Linked DNA regions of Homo sapiens: region 2 is linked to region 1. Evidence: fine-mapped expression QTL. Tissue or cell type: whole blood. Region 1 holds a variant in brackets; the other region holds the start of a gene. All regions are shown on one strand. Distances are between the middles of the regions.

Evidence for each region. PIP is the estimated chance that this variant, and not a neighbour inherited with it, causes the effect.
Region 2: LY6S-AS1 starts here. The variant in region 1 is fine-mapped to the expression of LY6S-AS1 in whole blood (TOPMed, PIP 0.97).

Annotation. Positions count from the first base shown.
Region 1 is chr8:142,907,638-142,910,388 of GRCh38, reverse strand. No RefSeq gene overlaps it. Among named protein-coding and RNA genes, the nearest start is that of CYP11B2, 8.8 kb to the left of the region's middle. The variant C/A (reference allele first, on the strand shown) is at 1,613.
Region 2 is chr8:143,037,579-143,040,203 of GRCh38, reverse strand. LY6S-AS1 (LY6S antisense RNA 1) reads right to left here and starts at 995. Exons shown (of 6, transcript NR_149322.1): 1 at 635-995. RefSeq lists an enhancer at 772-1,323.

The DNA of each region.
Region 1 (2,751 bases):
CTTATTTAGAACTTACCAGTGAAATGTGTGCCTGCGAATGGGTGTGTGTGTGTGTGTGTGTGTGTGTGTGTGCCTGCCTAATTCCATGCAACTCTGTCCCACATGTAAATTTTTGTGTTTTTAAATGTAAGCTTAATTATTACTCAGTTGTGGTGAGGCCCACAGGCCAGGAGAAGACTGTGATTGAAGAAATAGTCTGTTACTGACAGCGTGCAGTGGCAGGGCTGTTCTTGCCATCATGACCTCATTGGAAGCATCCGGGTCAATCTGAAGGCAGAGGTTCTAGTTCTTCCTGGGGGAGGAGCCAGTGAAAGCAGGGTAGGCAGGCTTGGGACTGATTGCTTTGCATGATTACCCAGGGCTGCGAGTCACAGGGATTGTCTCTGGCTGTCTGGTGCCTGACTCTGGGGGAATCTGTTCAGGGGAGCTGTGGCCTGGAGTGTGCAACAAGGTGGCTGGCAAGACTTCACAGGAAAGGCATTCACCAGGGGGGACCTTGACCATCTGTAGTAACTGGCCAGCCCTGGTAGGGCATCCTGTCCAGGATGCAAGCCCAGAAAAGCATCAGAAGCACAGAAAATAACAAGGATGATTACATGATTGGCCTGGTGATGCTTGGATGTCATTATTGAGAAAGCACTAGCATTAGTTTCTTTATCCACTTGTTGATTGATGGGTGTTTGGGTTGGTTCCACGTTTTTGCACTTGCAAACTGTGTTGCTATAAACATGCGTGTGCAAGTGTCTTTTTTGTATAATGACTTCTTTTCTTCTGGGTGGATTGCTGGATCAAATGGTAGTTCTACTTTTAGTTCTTTAAGAAATCTCCACACTGTTTTCCATAGTGGCTGTACTAGTTTACATTCCCACCAGTATTTAGAAGTGTTCCTTGTTCATTGCATCCATGCCAACATCTATTTTCTTATTTTTATTTTTTGATTACGACCATTCTTGCAGGAGTAAGGTGGTATCACATTGTGGTTTTGATTTGCATTTGACTGATCATTAGTGATGTTGAGAATGTTTTCATATGTTTGTTGGCTATTTGTTTATCTTCTTTTGAGAACTGTCTATTCATGTCCTTAGCCCACTTTTTGATGGGTTTGTTTGTTTGTTTCTTGCTAATTTGTTTGAGTTGATTGTACATTCTGGATATTAGTCCTTTGTCAGATGTATAGATTGTGAGGCTTTTCTCCCACTCTGTGGGTTGTCTGTTTACTCTGCTGACTGTTCCTTTTGCAGTGCAACAGCTCTTTAGTTTAATTAAGTCCCAGCTATTTATCTTTGTTTTTATTGTATTTGCTTTTGGGTTCTCGGTCATGAAATCCTTGCCTAAGCCAATGTCTAGAAGGGTTTTTCCAATGCTATCTTCTGGAATTTGTATAGTTTCAGGTCTTAGATTTAAGTCCTTGATCCATCTTGAGTTGATTTTTGTGTAAGGTGAAAGATGAGGATCCAGTTTCATTTTCCTACATGTGGCTTGCCAATTATCCCAGCACCATTTGTGGAATAGGATGCCCTTTCCCCACTTTATGTTTTTGTCTGCTTTGTTGAAGGTCAGTTGGCTGTAACTATTTGGGTTTATTTCTGGGTTCTCTATTCTGTTCCTTGGT[C/A]TATGTGCCTACTTTTATACCAGTACCATGCTGTTTTGGTGACTATGGCCTTATAGTATAACTTGAAATAAGGTAATGTGATGCCTCCAGATTTGTTCTTTTTGATTAGTCTTGCTTTGGCTATGGGGGCTCTTTTTTGATTCCATACGAGTTTTAGGACTGTTTTTCCTAGTTCTGTGAAGAATGATGGTGGTATTTTGATGGGAATTGCATTGAATTTGTACAACATAATTTCAATACACCTGAGAACTACACATATATTTGAAGAATAATACTTGGTGTGTTGCTTGTGTCAAGGTAGCAGGTTGATCAATTATGTTTTTGGAGCATAACAATTGGTAAATTAGTAAAGTATATGTAAAGATTAGTGGCATTTTTGTGTAACCAAGGAAAAAGAGTGGTTGTGATGGTTAGAGATGCAGCGTAGAAGGTCACGGTAGAATCCTGGACAAGATTAGTAGGAGAAGTTTCTGGAGAGTGAGTGGTCCTTTCCCTGGAGGTAAGATGTTGATATGAGACAAGTACCTTCTGGGGAAAGTGATAATCTCCATTAATTTTCAGAGTGGCACAGAGACCATCAACCTTTTCCAGGTGTCTCTTCGGCACGGGAGTGTAGGGGTGTGGGTGGTTCTGGAGATCAGGGATTTTATAAGGATCATGGGTGTTATACATGTGTTGCGTCTCCCAGAAATTTCTGTGTTGAAATCCTAAGCCCAGGACCTCAGAATATTACTGTATTTGAAGACAGAGTCTTTAAAGAGATAAATAATGTGAAACCAGGTCATTGAGGTAGACCCTAATCCAATATGACAGGTGTCCTTGGAGGAAAAGGGATTAGAACCCAGGCACAAACAGAGGGTGTCTCTGTGATTTGGTCAATAAACCAAGAAGAGAAGCTTGAGCAGAAACCATCCCCCCGAACACCTTCATCTAAGTCTTCTAGCCTCTGGAATTGTGAAAAAACAACTTTCTGTTGTTTAAGCCACCCAGTCCAGGGTACTTTGTTATTGCAGCCAAAGCAAACTAACGTGATAGGCTAAGCAGTCAGCAAGCTGCAGAAACTCATTACAATTGCTAAAACCAAAGAAAGAAAAGCAATCCATGTCCTGTGTCCAGTTCATGCCTTAGTGTAGCTGAAC
Region 2 (2,625 bases), 130 kb before region 1:
ATGGGGTGCAGTGGTTGTACCTGGTGACTCAGGACATTCGTCTACCTCCTCATGTCCCCCCTGCCTCTAGCACCACAGTGTCATGCCCTACCCTCCAGGGGGCCCAGAAAGCAGTGCTTTTGCCCAGGGCCATTGTCCCCTAGATAGAGGGTTCAGCCCAAGGAGGGCAGCCCTGATTCCCAAGCCTCCTGCAGCACTGACTCTCCACTGCAGCAGGCCTGGGGTTTCTGGCCATGGCTCGCCTTTGGCTCACCTCTCCAGAAGGTCTCTGGAAGCTTCTTCCCCACAGGGTCCTCCCTTCCACTGTAACCTTCCCTGGTTCTGGGAAACAAACTTGAGAGGCCCAGGCGCACCCCACCTCTTCTCTTTAGGTCTCCACAGCTTTTCCTCTGCCTCGTCCCCAAGGGGATCACTCTGGCCTTTCCCCTCTCCAGTGACCCTCTCCACACCCTCCCGGCTTCCCCCTTCCTCTGAGCACCCCAGATGCCAAAGGACAAGGTGAGGGAGCCTTTGGAGAAATGTTGCCTGACGTCACTGGTCCCCCACGCTCGGGGGACCCACACGGCCCGCCCTGCAGGCAGCCCCCTCCCCGCAGGCAGCCCCCTCCCCGCAGGCCGCCCCCTCCCCACCTCACCTCACAGCTGCAGGGGTCGGGGCTCGGAAGTGCTGGGGGCAGTTCAGGTTGAAGGCTGGGCAGCGTGCACTTCTCCCCCAGCCTCCTGGGGCCCGGGCATCACCGGAAGCGGAGTTTGTTCCCACTTTGTATCAGTCGCAAAGAAAGAGCACCCAATTGGACAAAAGGCAAGCAGGCTGCGTTCCTGGCCCGGAGTGGAGAAGAGTGAGCCCCTGCCCTGTCAGGGAAGCTGAGGCTGGGGGTTGTGAGGAGTCCCGTGCCGGGAGGAGGCTGCAGGAGCGCCTCAATGCACCTCTTGATACCACGCATGCTTAGCAAGGCCTGGGGACTGTCCTCTCGGGCAGGACTTCCGCCTTGTAATGACATGTCGCTGATTTAAAGGGAACTGGGGGTCACCAGCTCTGGTTTGTGCAAGTCTGGTGCGTTCTTATCTCCCTTGTATTTGGCAGGGGATCCTAAACCTCTCCTGGTATGTTGAGACATCTGGAGCTCATTAAGCCTCGGCGCCTGTAGATAAAGAGATTAAAGGAAAAAAGAAAAGAAATCCCGCCCTGGGGCAGCTGGGGTAGGATTAGCCTGGAGGCCACGCCTCTGCAGGGTCTCCCATAGGCTGGGCCAGCCTCTGCCCTCCCTGCTTCCAGAACCCCGGACGCTGATGGCCTGTGGCGGCCACTCTCCGCCCACCCCGGAGCCCAGCCTAGCGGGGAGAAGGCCGCCGGCCCGTTCGAATGTCCCTCTGCTTCCAGGGTCAGCCTGCACGCCACTCTCACAGAGGCCAGACGGGCGGTGGGGCGGGGACTCAGTTCATCCTCTGCCTGAGGAGCAGGTCTCGGGTGCGACTGAGCTTTTCACCCTTTGAGAGGAGTCAGGGACACGCAGCGTCTCCAGCAAGCTGGTGGCAGAAACTGATGGAGCATCCTAATCACAAAATAGGAAGAGAGTTTGCAAAATAGGAGCATTTACCAGAAGCCTCTCTCTCTCCCTCCCTCCCTCCCTCCCTCTCTCTCTCTCTCCCTCTCTCTCTCTCTCTCTCTCTCTCTCTCTCTCTCTCTCTCTCTCTCTCTCTCTCTCTCTCTCTCTCTCTCTCTCTCTCCCTCCCTCCCTCTCTCCCTCTCTCTCTCCCTCCCTCCCTCTCTCTCTCCCTCCCTCCCTCTCTCCCTCCCTCCCTCTCTCTCTCTCTGTGTGTCTCTCAAGTAGAAGTGGGGTCTCTATGTTGCCCAGGCTGCTCTCGAACTCCGAGGCTCAAGCGATCCTCCTGCCTCAGCCTCCCAAAGTGCTGCGATTACAGGTGTGAACTACTGGGCCCAGCCCCAGGCCCTCTTACAGGAGTGGGCTGCCTAGAAACATTCCAGTGCCATATCCCACTCCACTCCGGGTGCAGGGACAGGACCCCTGCCACCCCCAACCCAGGCCCAAAAGGAGGGGCCAGGAGGGGAGGGGCCACCAAGGCAGGTGAGCTGCTTAAGAGGAGCGAGGGCTGTGGACAGTCCTGCGGACTGCAGGAGGGGCCAGCAGGATCAATATCCAGCTTCTCTCTCCTGCTGGGCTCCTGCTGGGGCTCCCTGTTGGTCACCCCAAAACCTACTGTCTCTCATCGCTGCCGGGGCTGGCCAGGCTCAGCTGCTGGTTCTGCCTTGGGGCACCTCCTAGGTGGAGTCAGGGTGGCTGAAGGCTTCCCCACTCATGCGTCCACTGTCTGGACATCCTGCCCCTGCCCGACCTCCAGGAGTTGCAGTGTGTGAAGGCCACACCACAGCCCCTCTCTGCTGCCTCCCTCATGTCTCCTCCAGAATGATGCTCTTAACCCCCTCATTAGAGGCCCCCATCCTTCCCAACTGTACCTCTTGACACCCTGAGTACAGTTCAAGAGACCCTGAAGAAACTCAGAAAAGTGACAACTGGAGGCTCTGGGAGAGAAGAGTGAAGTCACTCACATTTGTTTTTATTTACTTATTTTTTTTTTAGAGATGAGGTCTTGCTTTGTTGGCCAA